Homo sapiens: one gene and its partner. The protein of the gene in region 2 interacts with the protein of the main gene of each other region in a pairwise test. Each region holds a gene or a part of one and is shown on either strand. Other genes may lie near its edges.

The links. The genes of interacting proteins can lie anywhere in the genome.
Region 1: the proteins of PDIA6 (region 2) and CLN8 interact in a two-hybrid assay, tested with the Homo sapiens proteins (one study listed by BioGRID).

Annotation. Positions count from the first base shown.
Region 1 is NC_000008.11:1,758,949-1,766,791, reverse strand, and holds the start of CLN8 (protein CLN8), read right to left. Parts: upstream 3,004-7,843; 5' UTR 2,907-3,003; exon of another isoform or gene 2,794-2,906; intron 2,359-2,793; exon of another isoform or gene 2,208-2,358; intron 1-2,207. UniProt on the Homo sapiens protein: Could play a role in cell proliferation during neuronal differentiation and in protection against cell death.
Region 2 is NC_000002.12:10,802,779-10,809,800, reverse strand, and holds part of PDIA6 (protein disulfide-isomerase A6 isoform d precursor), read left to right. Parts: intron 1-7,022. UniProt on the Homo sapiens protein: May function as a chaperone that inhibits aggregation of misfolded proteins. Negatively regulates the unfolded protein response (UPR) through binding to UPR sensors such as ERN1, which in turn inactivates ERN1 signaling.

The sequences.
Region 1 (7,843 bases), on a different chromosome or scaffold from region 2:
TGCTGTGCACCATAAGGCTCAGGCCACATGAAGGAGTCCTTAAGTGTAATGCACAGCTGGAAGTCACTGTTCCTTCCATGGGTAAAACTGGAGGCCGAATCGGCCGGGCAGGGTGGCTCACACCTGTAATCCCAGCACTTTGGGAGCCCAAGGTGGGAGGATCACGAGGTCAGGAGATCGAGACCATCCTGGCTAACATGGTGAAACCTTGTCTCTACTAAAATACAAAAAAAAAATAGCCAGGCGTGATGGCGAGCGCCTGTAGTCCCAGCTACTCGGGAGGCTGAGGCAGGAGAATGGCGGGAACCTGGAAGGCGGAACGTGCAGTGAGCTGAGATAGCGCCACTGCACTCCAGCCTGGGTGACAGAGTGAGGCTCCGTCTCAAAAAAAAAAAAAAAAACAAAAAACTGGAGGCCGAACCTAATGGACTCATCTGGTTCTTTCATTCTGGAAGGCTTCCAAGCCCTTCCACACCAGCCCCTTTCCTCTCTGCAGTAGAGGAAGTGGAGCCGGAGAATAAACAACTCCTGGAAGGCCACCATCTCTTGACGCTGCAGATCTTCATTTTCTTTGGAGAAAATGTATACAAAAAGCTTGTCTTATAAGATTCTGTGGTTTCAGCTCTTCTATTGCACTGGGCCATGAAGTTTTTTAAAAATCTGAATGCAAACACATCAGTAAGAGTGTTAGCTCTGTTGCTGCAGTGTGACCAGGAACCAGGCTCAGTGGCCACTGGAACCCTTCGACTCTGTCATGCATCTATGCGCTCCTCCGGTTTATGGGGGCTAAACTGCTATGGATACCAGCATTTTTGTTTTTCATTGAGATAATTTATCCAAACTTGGAAGTGACGTCAAAAGGGAAAAAAAAGGTTGCATGCTTTTTTCCCTGCTAACGCAAGTTCAGTGTTTTACAACCCCAACAATCACTTGACTTTCTAGGAGAAATAACTAAACTATTTACCACTGATTGTGGGTCACGCATTTTACAATCTGCAAAGCTAATTCTCCTTTCCATCAAGAAGAAAAGACAATCCCAAAGGCTGTGGTTTCAATGCACACAGGATATTCACCAATCTTATTATCTAATCTGGCAATCTTCTCTCAGCATTCCTGTTACCCACTCACTAAGAAAATCCTAGTTTTGTGTATTCTCTTTTGAACTGACATTCCTATCCTGCTGTATACTGCATTAATGACTGAAATATAACCTGACAAGAGCTATTTACATGAGAATTATACTTCTAACATTTTGAAAATTATACATTGATGGGTTGTAAAAATGTTTTCCAAAATCAACAGAAATACATGTTTAATACACAAAATTCAGAAAATATAAACAAGCATAAAAATACAAAAATAAAAATTTACAATCCTCTTACACAGCTCCAAGCACCATCACTATTTTTTGGTGCCTGCTGGGTCAATTGTTTTTCTAGATATAAACTCTTCTTTTTACATAAAAGGGGATAACAGTATACAAGCTGCTCCCCGGCCTGCTTCTCTTCTCTCAGCAACAGCTAATCCTCCTCTGCAACACGGTTGCAGGGACTCCACCATTTACCTACCCGGTGTCCTACCAGGCTTTTGCCCAGTTCCTCGTTATCAGAAGACATTGTGTATTGAACATCTCTGAGGCCACCTAGAGAACCTGTGCTCTTTGTATGGAAACTGGATGCTCAGGAAGAACTTCCTTAACAACCACAGCCTCCATGACGGCCAATCTGAAAGTGAGGCACAGAAGTGTTCAAGCTCAGTGGGGAGCTGTGGCCATCTCATATTCCCTCAATCACTCACACTTCCTGCACCATTGCTCTTTCCTCTCACAACCTTCCTGAAAAGTTGTATGTAAATAAAAATCAAAATACGGGAGTGAGGTAAGCAGAAGCTGGATAGTTACAGATTTCACACAGAGGGTAAACTGAAACAGGAGTCAGAAGCAGCCGCCTCGCGCCAGTCTTTCAGAGAAGAGTCACTTACAGCAGAATCTACACAGGCTGGGGAGCCCCTGGCTCCCCTCCCTACTGTCCACACCCAACCCCAACCTAGAGCAGCTGGCTATAGGGCCCAGAGCCCAGGCGGGTCCCACCTCCTGCTGACCTGACCCAGCGCCCGCTCTCTCCCCCGCACACTTTGGTGACCTTACCCAGCGTCCCTCCCCGCTCCTACAGGTTCTGACTGACCCAGCGTCCCTCCGCCTCCCACACCATGTTGAGCTGCACCTTGTCCCCTTCCGCCCCAGCTAACTCGGTGACCAGTGGAGGCCACACCCACGTGACACCTGCTGTCCTTGACAGCAGCTCCGACGGCACCTCTGTGGCTCTGCAGGAGCCGCCTCCCCGCCTCGTGGGCACACAGGTGAGCTGACCGTACTTGCCCAGCCGGTCTGAGGGAAGCGAGGTCAGGGGCGACGGCGCCGCCTCCGCCTCCGCCTGTCCCCTCCCTCCGTCCGGCATCCGCGCCGCTCAAGGACTCCAAAGTCAGCGTCGCGGTGAGGAGCCCCCCACGCCCAACCCGCGCAGGCAGGACCCCGGGCTGCGGGGCTCGAAAGTCCCCCACAAGCTGCTGTCCGGGAACCGCACGGCCCGGGGTGCCGCACGCCCACCGGAAGGCAGGGCTGGGACCGCGGACGCCAGGAGCCACCCCGGCCCCTCACCCGGGCTCCCCCTCACGTGGGCTCCCGCGCGCCCATCTGGGTTCCCCCTCAGCTGAGTTCCCGGCCCCTCACCTGGGATCCCCGGTCCCCTCACCCGGGCTTCCCAGCCCCCTCGCCTGGGCTCCACGCGCGCTCACCTGGGCTGCCCCTCACCTGGGTTCCCGGCCCCTAACCCGGGCACCCCGCGCGCTCACCTGGGCTGCCCCTCACCTGGGTTCCCGGCCCTCACCCGGGCTCCCTGAGCGCTCACCTGGGCTGCCACTCAGCCGGGCTCCCTGCGCTTGGCGCCGCCCCGCCCCTGCAGGACTCCCGGCAGTCACTGACCTCATTGCCGCCCAGTCACGACTGGCCGGCCTCAAACACCGCCCGCGCACGCGCGTTCGCACGCGCGTGCGCACGCGTTCTGCCCCCCTGGGGGCGTCGCTACGAGAGGCCCCGCCTAGGCGCTACGACGGCGGCGGGCGCGGGAGGGGCGGGGCGGCGGGCGCGGGAGGGGCGCGGCGGGGGGCGGGGCGCGGCGCGGGGGGCGGGGCGCGGCGGGGGGCGGGGCGCGGCGGGGGGCGGGGCGCGGCGGGGGGCGGGGCGCGGCGGGGGGCGGGGCGCGGCGGGGGGCGGGGCGCGGCGGGGGGCGGGGCGCGGCGGGGGGCGGGGCGCGGCGGGGGGCGGGGCGCGGCGGGGGGCGGGGCGCGGCGGGGGGCGGGGCGCGGCGGGGGGCGGGGCGCGGCGGGGGGCGGGGCGCGGCGCGGCGGGCGCTGTGGGGCGGCGGGGTGGACGCGCTGAACCACGGCCGGCGGGAGGGGCGGGGCCGGGCTGAACCATGGCGGGCGGCGGCATGGGGGCGGTGGGGCTCCGCGGGCAGCCTGGTTGCGCTGCACCCGGACGGGGCCGAGGGGACCTGAAAGCTGCGGCAGAGCCTGACCGCGCCGTTCTCCAGAAGAGCCCCGGCCGCGGCTGAGTCGCGCTCCGGGTGTGGACGGAGCCGGAGCCTCCCCGGGGCTCGGTGAGGACACAGGGCCCAAGCCCCGGACCTTCAAGTCTTGACCGAGCGCATCCCCGGCCCTTCTGCGCCCACACCTGAGTTTTTGTCTGTAGGAGTTTCCGCAGTTTGCTAAGGTTGTTATTCGAGTTACTTATGTTTCTTCTCTCTAAGGTTGTTATTCGAGTTACTTATGTTTCTTCTGTCTAATGTGTTTTGTTCCCTCTTTAGAATCGACATCTAGAGGAGTACTCACCACTTAATTGATGATCAATACACGTTCCTTGAAAGAACCGATAGCATGCGATCGATACAGAGCATCTGCACTGGGATTGTCCGCCCCGCCTGTCAGGGAGGCCTCGGGGGCTAATGGAGCTGAGGGTATAGTCGGCCTTGGACCCTCGCTTTTTTCCTTTCCTGTACTATGAAGATAACTGCCTTATCTCCCCCTCAGGACTGTTTTGGGGATTAAATAGGACGTTTAAATTACCAACGCTCTTTGAAATAAACATTTCAAAATTATTATAACCCTTTAGTACATGTGGGAAAACGTTGACATTCATGTTCAAGTTTATTTTTCTGCTGGCTCATTTAGGTTTGTTGAAGCCTTGAGTCCCTAGGATTGTCTAAGAACATGGGTAAATGTGTGTGGAGGCCTCCCTGGAGGCCAGAGAACTGCCAGCAGCCTTCATGATGTTAGGGGAACAGGAACCTAGGAGAGCCAGGGTGACATCGTTTTAAAATCAACAACCCATCTTGGCGGGCGCGGTGGCTCAAGCCTGTAATCCCAGCAGTTTGGGAGAAAAAAATTAGCCGGGTGTGGTGGTGGGCACCTGTAATCTCAGCTACTCAGGAGGCTGAAGCAGAATTGCTTGAACCCAGGAGGCAGAGGTTGCAGTGAGCTGAGATCACGCCATGGCACTCTAGCCTGGGCAACAAGAATGAAACTCTGTCTCAAAAAAATAAAAATAAAATAAAATAAACTCCATCTTAAAACCAGTGAAACCACCATTGCAAAATTATAACTGAGACAGTGAGAGATCTGACCTAACCAACTCCATCCTACTTTTAACCTCCAAACTGTCCTTGTTCATTCCTGGGTGTAGGCCAAACTAACTTTGGAAGAAACTTAGTTTATGGTTTCCCGAAACAAATCCTTTTCTTGTCTGGAGACTAGACTGCCTTTGTAGGACTAACAAATTAGCCACAAGATTAGAAATTATGGTTTAGAATTCATGCAGCTGGAGATTACAAGATTCTGACCCTCCCTAAATTGCTCCTGGGGATAACATCACTATTGAAAAACCTAACAACAGTGCTTGAGATATTTTGCAGACCTTGCACTTGCTGAATTAGCTGGGACCATCCAGATGGATAAACTGGCTCATCTGATCTTGTGGCCCGCACTCAGCAACCGGCTCAGGCCAAGAGGACAGCTTTGATCCATACGATTTCATCTCTGATCTGACCCCTCAGTGCTCCCAGCTTACTGGCCCCCTACCTACCAAATTATCCTTAAAAACTCTGAACTCCAGGGCTGGGCACGGTGGCTCACACCTGTAATCCCAGGACTCTGGGAGGCCGAGGCAGGCGGATCACTTGAGGTCAGAAGTTCAAGACCAGCCTGGCCAACATGGCAAAACCCCGTCTCTACTAAAAATACAAAAATTAGCCAGGCGTGGTGGTGCACGCCTGTAATGCCAACTACTTGGGAGCCTGAGGCAGGAGAATTGCTTGAACCCTGAAGGCGGAGGTTGCAGTGTGCTGAAATCGCACCACTGCACTCCAGCCTGGGCAACAGAGCAAGACTCCATCTCAAAAACAACAGCAAAAACTCTGAACTCCGAATTCTTGGGGAAATTGATTTGAGTAATAATAAAACTCTGGTCTCCCGCACAGCCAGCTCTGTGTGGATTATTCTTTCTCTATGCAGTTCACCTGTTTGGATAAATCAGCTCTGTGTAGGCAACATGAACCTGATTGGCAGTTACAGTAGCCTGTAATCCCAGCTACGTGGGAGGCTGAGGCAGGAGAATTGCCTGAACCTGGGAGGCGGAGGTTGCAGTGAGCCGAGATCATGCCACTGCACTCCAGCCTGGGCAACAGAGCAAGACTCCATCTCAAAAAAAAAAAAAAAAAAAAAAAAAGATGGCTATAGTCATGCTTAGATGTAGTTACGCACTGAAATGCCAAGGATAACGTTATTTACATCCACCAAGTACTAGATCTTGTCACACTGCCAGCCCACCTGCACTTACACGTAGCTTGGCTTTTACATTGATACAAGATGCCTTTGAAACAAAGATGGCACATTCTTCTTCCTGCTTTCCGCGGGCTCCCCACTCTGTATCAGAGCAGCTGTCTCTCACTGCACTCTGCGACTGCCTTGAGTTCCTCCCTGCGCAAGATCCGAGAACTCTCTCTTAGGGTCTGGACTGGACCCCTTTCTCCATCAGCACTGGGTTCCTTAGATTCCTACTAACAGCATGCTGAGGCCTGTCTTAACAAAGAATGAAGTGAGGCTTAGAAAGATGGAACCATAACTTGCTCAGTCACGTGGCTAGTAAGCTCTTCAGCTTGAATTTAAACATTCCAGGACTGTGTCTTTCCACTCGGCCATCTTTAAAGCAGAGTGATAAAATAGTTTTGTTTTCTAAAAAACCATCACAGGCATAACTGATCACAGGTATAACCAGTATCCATGCGGGGTGTGGAACACTGAATGAAACCCGGGCGGATTCCCAGCTTGCTCCGTCTCAGCTTGGGCACTGCTGTTTACAGCCTGTGTACTCCCCTCCCGCCCTGCCACCCACAAGTGTCTCACCTCCTTCCTCGACAGATCGAATGACACAACAAACATTTATCTTGGGTGCACAGCGTGTCAGGCGTCAGGCTAAGCACTTTGATAAACTGGTTCTTTCAAACATCACAGGTGTCTGACGCAGGCACCATTATCCACGTCATAGAAAAAAAACAGTGTTCAGTGAGCCTGAGGTTAGCAATGTGTGCACCTCCACACACTGCTAAATGACAAAGCTGAATTTTGAAGTACGATGCCATGAGGTGTCTGGAGTAGACAACCAAAATGACTTAATTGAGGTGTCAGGGGACTGTCTTACTTTCTGGTCACACAAGCAATATACGCTCATTGTGAGGTTTGGTTGTTCCATTACAAAAAAGACTGTTTTAAAAGCCATTAGCGGAGGGATGGGAGGAGTTCTCTTCTGCCTGTTTCTTCCTCCTAAACAGCAAAATGACGGTGTCCTCAAAGGGATGTATAATGAGCGAGAGGCGAAAAAGAACGTCTGTGATTTTAAATCCAGTGTCCTTCACCAGTGAGCAATAGTAGTTCTGTGAGTGGGAGAGCAGGACCGCGGTGCTTGCAAACAACACTTTAAAACACTGGAACCCAAGTTCAGGATCTGCTGACAGCACATCTGCAGGAAGCATGAGGGTCTCTGGACTCCCGCAGATCAGCTGCTCAGCTTCTCAGCCTCAATGTGGCAAAGACTCTACCTGACCTAACTCCAGGCAGGGTCCTCGAAGCCCTCAAGGCTCTGACCTGGACCCCTGTCCCCTTTCGTCCAAAAGAATCCTGCTGGGTCAATGCAGTGACAGTTCCCCGCCCCTGATATCATACTCCTCATCCCTCACCCTCGGTATCTTATCACCTGGCCTGCCTGTGGCACGAATCCTACCAAGTGGTTCTAGCAAGAACCCCCCTGGCCTGATGTAGCCTCTTCATAGTTTTCCGTCCGTTCTCACCCTCTCCGTGGCTGTACATTCCCGTTTTTCTTCTTACACTCAGAGTTGAGCCTAGTCCCACTGCAGTGGCCCCTGCACCTATCGCGATTCCTTTGAGACTGTAAAACAAAAATAAAATTCTAGTCCCCCGCCAACCCCGTTAGCCACGAGCTTTCCAAAGTAAACCTTAGAGACTAGTTCAGACCGTGATGGGAAGTGGGGGTGGGACAGGCTCCTTATACCCGCCTTCCGTTGAAATCCAGGCACAGCTGACCTGCATTAACGTCAAAGCAGAGATCTTAAGGTTGACAAAACAGACTCTGTAGCAATAAGATACTACATTCCAACCTGACTCTAGTATAGCATCACATGATAGAGAGCAGGCCCTGGAAGAAATCAAGCATTTTACCCCAGAATATATTTCTTTGACATATTTTGAAGGGGCCCCACACGGCTGTCTCTTGAGG
Region 2 (7,022 bases):
TCCATTTTTGAAAATTTCACAATAGGCTCAGTGTACTGAGCAAGTACCAAATTCATATCGATTTTACAAAAAAGATAAAGTTCTTTAAAAGTAGTACATCTCTGTAGAAGATTATCCTATTTTTTGGGTTTTTTTTTTTTTTTTTTTTTTTTTTTGAGACCGGGTCTTGCTCTGCCTCCCAGGCTCAAGCAATCCTCCCACATCAGCCTCTGGAGTAGCTGCGGCTACAGATGCACCCTACCATACCGAGCTAATTTTTGCATTTTTGTATTTCATATTTTTTCTCTACAAGAGATGGAGTTTTGCCATGTTGCCCAGGCTGGTCTCAAACTCCTGGCTCAGGTTATCCACCCGCCTCATCCTCCCAAAGTTCTGGGATTACAGGCCTAAGCCACCACACCCAGCCTTAGTCTTACTTTCAAGCTTATTCAGAGTTAGGACTGTCAGTGCTTATGTTCTTGATTTACTTGGCTTTGTTAAACGTGTCAAACTCTACTTCACCTTTTCTGCAGCAGTGAAAAGATTAATGAGCAGTGCCATCCAATAGAAATATAATGCAAACATATATGTAATTTTAAATTTTCTAGTAGCTACATTTAAAATGGCCAAAAGAAACAGGTGAAATTAATATATTTACTGAGTATATCTAAGATCATTTAAACATGTGTTTTCAAAATGAAAAATAATATTGAGGCCGGGCACGGTGGCTCACGCCTGTAATCCTCGCACTTTGGGAGGCCAAGGTGGGCGGATCACCTGAGGTCAGGAGTTCAAGACCAGCCTGGCCAACATGGTGAAACCCCATCTCTACTAAAATACAAAAATTAGCCGGGCATGATGGCTGATGCCTGTAATCCTGAGACGGGAGAATCGCTTGAACCCAGGAGACAGTGGTTGCAGTGAGCCAAGATTGCACCACTGCACTCCAGCCTGGGCAGCTGAGTGAGACGCCGTCTCAAAAAAAAAGAAAAATAATGAGATTACATTTTTCCCTCCATTAAGTCTTCAGAATTCAGTGTGTTTTTACCAGCATATCTTAGTTTGGGGTAGCCACATGTAGCTAGTGGCTATCATGCTGGATAACCTGTTACTGAGAGAGCAGCCCCGCTTTGGTTAGCCTGGCATCCATTCACAGGCATCCTTTCCCACCTCTTGAAATGGAAAAGGAGATCATCCTATCAAAGGCTACTCCATCACTGACTGGGTTCCCGCTCCTCTTCTGACTCTGGGCATTTTATTCAGATACTCCCTGTATTTTATCTTTGGCCTCTCCCACTGCATATGTCTTCCTCTCCTAGATCACTCCCATCTTCAAAGAAAACCTTCCTTGTTTTCTACATTTGCCTGCCTCTGGTCTCTATAATGAAACCTGCTTAAAGAGTTACCTATATTCTCTCCAACCTTCTGCAGACTGCATGCCTGTTATTTTCACTCCACCACAACTGCCAGGGCTCCCAGTGACTTCTTTGTCACTAAATCCAATCAGTAGATGGTTTTAAGTCTTTGCTACTTTATCTCCCAGTAGCATTTGTTAGTGTGGCCCCTTCCACATGTATCTTGGTTTATGTGACACCACTCTGGATAATTCTCCCAATCCACCTTCCACATGGCAACTGGAATACTCCTTCTAGAAAGCATAAATCTATTCTTTCCTCTGAATGATAACCCTTTAGTGGCTTCACTATTAGTAAAATTAACAGTTTTATAAGTTCTTACAGTATTGGCTATATCTGTGATTCAAATGCAGTGTAAATCTTGAATACCATAATTGTTCATTCATACCTATAGCGTACAGAACCACTTTATCTTGAGCACTAAAAAGACAGCATGGTGTAATAGGAAAAGCTTGGAAATGGAGAGCTGCCCTGCCCCTTATATGTATGACCATAGATGGGCCATTTGGTCTAGACCTTTATTTACAAAATGGGGATAAGTCCTACTTTCTAGTTAGTAATGCTGTCAAAAATTAAGTGATCTAACATTTGATAGTGATTTGAAAAATTGAACGTGTTGTATGATGGAGGATTTAGCAGTAAAACAATGAACAATGGTGTACACTCCTTCCAGAAAAAGTGTACCATTTAGTTATTCCAAAAAGGTCCATTTGAAATCTTCCAAATTCTAATTGTGAAGCAAGCATGTGAAAATGTAACTAAGATGGCATGTACACACACTACTTGAGAACACAGGCCAGTCTCACTTATAATTTGCTATATCAACAAATTAAAAGGAAGAAATGATATGATCAACTTCAGAGATGCTGAAAAGACAGGAATAGATAGAAATTTCGTTAACATTGTAAGTACATTTTGGCCTGGCGTGGTCACTCATACCTGTAATCCCAGCACTTTGGGAGGCAGAGGCAGGAGGATCACTTGAGACCAGCCTGGGCAACACAGGGAGACCCTGTCTCTACAAAAAATTTAAAAGTTAGCCAGGGATGCACCTGTAGTCCCAGCTACTGGGGGTGCTGAGGTGGGAGGATCACTTGAGCCCAGGAGGTCAGGGCTGCTGCAGGGAGCTGTGTTTGCACCATTGCACTCCAGTCTGGGTGACAGATCAAGACCCTCTCTCAAAAAAAATTAAAAAGTGTATTTATTTCAATCCAAAAGCCAGCATGATGCAAATAGGAAAACCTTGTTGAAGTCAAGAATAGTCTGAGGATATTCCATTATTTACCTTGTTCTAGAGGTAATCAGCAAATTTTTGTATATTGTCATGTGTTGCTTAACATTAGAGACGTGATCTGAATTATGATCAACTTCAGAGATGCTGAAAAGACAGGAATAGAAATTTCTTTAATTGCTATTGTATCAGACGATTTCTTCATTGTGAATAACATCAGTGTGTACTTAATACAAACCTAGATGGCATAACTTACTAAAAACCTAGGCTACATGGTATAGCTTATTTCTCTTAGGTTATAAATCTGTTCGGCATGTTACTGTACTGAATATTGTATGCAGTTGTAACACAATGGCAAGCATTTGTGTATCTAAACATAGAAAGGGTGCAGTAAAAATATGATATAAAAGATTAAAATAGTACACCTGTACAGGACATTTACCGTGAATGCAGCTTGCATGACTGGGGGTTGCTCTAAAAATTTTATTTCTTGGATAATAGATTAACCTTAATTTACTGTAACGTTTTTCTTTCTTTCTTTCTTTCTGTCTTTATTTTTTAGGAGATGTGGTTTTGCTATTCTGTGTTGGCCAGCCTGGTTTTGAACTGCTGGCCTCAAGCAGTCCTCCCACTTTGGCCTCCAAAGTGTTGGGATTATAGGTGTGAGCCATGGCATCTGGTCAACATTTTACTTTCTAAACTTAATTTTTTTTTTTTAACTTTTTGGCTCTTGTAAAAACACTTACCTTAAAACGCATTATACAAAACAGCAGTACAAAAATATTTTCTCTCTTTTTTTTTTTTTTTTGAGACAAGGTCTTGCCCTATCAGGCTGGAGTGAGTGGTGCATCACAGCCCACTGCACCCGTAGCCTCGACCTCCCTGGGCTCAGTGATCCTCCCACCTCAGCCTCTCGAGTAGCTAGGACTATAGGCATGCACCACCATGCCTGGCTAATTTTTGTACTTTTTTTAGAGAGGGGGTCTCACTATGTTGCCCAGGCTGGTCTTGAATTCCTGAGCTCAAGCGATCTGCCTGCCTTGGCCTCCCAAAGTGCTGGGATTACAAGCATGACCCATAGCACCTGGCCAGTATTTTCTTTTATATCCGTATTCTGTAAGGTTTTTTTCGTTTTTTTTTTTTTTTTTTTAATTATACTTTAAGTTTTAGGGTACATGTGCCATGCTGGTGCACTGCACCCACTAACTCCTCATCTAGCATTAGGTATATCTCCCGATGCTATCCCTCCCCCCTCCCCCCACCCCACAACAGTCCCCAGAGTGTGATATTCCCCTTCCTGTGTCCATGTGATCTCATTGTTCAATTCCCACCTATGAGTGAGAATATGCGGTGTTTGGTTTTTTGTTCTTGCAATAGTTTACTGAGAATGATGATTTCCAATTTCATCCATGTCCCTACAAAGGACATGAACTCATCATTTTTTATGGCTGCATAGTATTCCATGCTGTATATGTGCCACATTTTCTTAATCCAGTCTATCATTGTTGGACATTTGGGTTGGTTCCAAGTCTTTGCTATTGTGAATAATGCCGCAATAAACATACATGTGCATGTGTCTTTATAGCAGCATGATTTATAGTCCTTTGGGTATATACCCAGTAATGGGATGGTTGGGTCAAATGGTATTTCCAGTTCTAGATCCCTGAGGAATCGCCACACTGACTTCCACAATGGTTGAACTAGTTTACAGTCCCACCAACAGTGTAAAAGTGTTCCTATTTCTCCACATCCTCTCCAGCACCTGTTGTTTCCTGACTTTTTAATGATTGCCATTCTAACTGGTGTGAGATGGTATCTCATTGTGGTTTTGATTTGCATTTCTCTGATGGCCAGTGATGATGAGCATTTTTTCATGTGTTTTTTGGCTGCATAAATGTCTTCTTTTGAGAAGTGTCTGTTCATGTCCTTCGCCCACTTTTTGATGGGGTTGTTTGTTTTTTTCTTGTAAATTTGTCTGAGTTCATTGTAGATTCTGGATATTAGCCCTTTGTCAGATGAGTAGGTTGCGAAAATTTTCTCCCATTTTGTAGGTTGCCTGTTCACTCTGATGGTAGTTTCTTTTGCTGTGCAGAAGCTCTTTAGTTTAATTAGATCCATTTGTCAATTTTGTCTTTTGTTGCCATTGCTTTTGGATACAAAATCAATGTACAAAAATCACAAGCATTCTTATACACCAACAACAGACAGAGAGCCAAATCATGAGTGAACTCCCATTCACAATTGCTTCAAAGAGAATAAAATACCTAGGAATCCAACTTACAAGGGATGTGAAGGACCTCTTCAAGGAGAACTACAAACCACTGCTCAAGGAAATAAAAGAGGATACAAACAAATGGAAGAACATTCCATGCTCATGGGTAGGAAGAATCAATATCGTGAAAATGGCCATACTGCCCAAGGTAATTTACAGATTCAATGCCATCCCCATAAAGCTACCAATGACTTTCTTCACAGAATTGGAAAAAACTACTTTAAAGTTCATATGGAACCAAAAAAGAGCCCGCATCGCCAAAGCAATCCTAAGCCAAAAGAACAAAGCTGGAGGCATCACACTACCTGACTTCAAACTATACTACAAGGCTACAGTAACCAAAACAGCATGGTACTGGTACCAAAACAGAGATATAGATCAATGGAACAGAACAGAGCCCTCAGAAATAACGCTGCCTGTCTACAACTATCTGATCTTTGACAAACCTGAGAAAAACAAGCAATGGGGAAAGGAATCCCTATTTAATAAATGGTGCTGGGAAAACTGCCTAGCCATATGTAGAAAGCTGAAACTGGATCCCTTCCTTACACCTTATACAAAAATCAATTCAAGATGGATTAAAGACTTAAACGTTAGACCTAAAACCATAAAAACCCTAGAAGAAAACGTAGGTTTTTTTCGTTTTTAAAGTTTGTTTTAGTTTTTTAAACTTTTTTGTCAAAAACTAGGACACAGGGCCGGGCACGGTGGCTCACGCCTGTAATCCCAGCACTTTGGGAGGCCGAGGCGGGCGGATCACAAGGTCAGGAGATCGAGACCATCCTGGCTAACACAGTGAAACCCCATCTCTACTAAAAATACAAAAAATTAGCCAGGCGTGGTGGCAGGCGCCTGTAGTCCCGGTTACTCAGGAGGTTGAGGCAGGAGAATGGCGTGAACCCGGGTGGCAGAGCTTGCAGTGAGCCGAGATAGCGCCAATGCACTCCAGCCTGGGTGACAGAGCAAGACTCTGTCTCAAAAAAAAAAAAAAACACAAAAACTAGGACACAAACACGCACATTAGCCTAGGTCTACTCAGGGTCAGAGTTATCAAGGCATCACAAGGTGATAGGATTTTTTAAGCTCCATTATAATCCACAGGACCACCCTCATATATGTGTTCTCTCCTTGACCCTGTGGATGTGACTGTATATGTAAATTTAAAAGGTGAAATTTTGATAGTAATGCCATTTCAGAGAACTTTTGGGTTCTTAAGATACTAGTAAGTTCAGAATTTGTTTTCCTAAATTATTGTTGTAAATTGCATGTAAGTTTCCAGAGTTGCTAATGAAAATGCTCTTGATCCACAATGTGGCAGAACTGTGTGGTCAGCAATACAGTCGACACTGTATCCTGTCTTTATAAGGTTGTTCACACGAACAGTGTTTCTGATAATGTGTTATGGATAGTATTAAGAGAAATAAAACTATTTATAAAAATAAACATTGGCTGGGCGCCATGGCTCATGCCTGTAATCCCAGCACTTTGGGAGGCCGAGGCAGGCGGATCACCTGAGGTCAGGAGTTCGAGACCAGCCTGACCAACATGGAGAAACCCTGTCTCTATTAAAAATACAAAATTAGCCGGGCGTGATGGCACATGCCTGTAATCCCAGCTACTTGGGAGGCTGAAGCAGGAGAATTGCTTGAACCTGGGAGGCGGAGGTTGTGGTGAGCCAAGATCATGCCATTGCACTCCAGCCTGGGCAACAAGAGCGAAACTCCGTCTCAAAATATAAATAAATAAATTACCATTGCCCTTGAAAGAGTCACAATCTAGTGGAAGAGACAATAATTATTTTCCCTTCAAAAATATATTTGAATAAAGATAATGTGCTAATAATTGCAACTGAATAACATGAGGAATGATTACTACGTGATTGCCCAGGGTTACACAGGCAGAAGTGACCTCCCAATTTTTCAGCGTCCATGCCATAAAATGACAGTAGTACTGCCTCATGGAGCGGTTGTAAAGAACAAAGACGTTGATACATGAAAGCCACTAAGAATAATGCTTCAGCCTTTTTCCAGTGCAGCCCAAGGAGTGGGAGTGGGGACCGTCCGTTCCTTTCTTGCTCAGCGTTGCAGCAATGGGAGTGAAATTCCAGGGGCTCCAACTGCAGCAG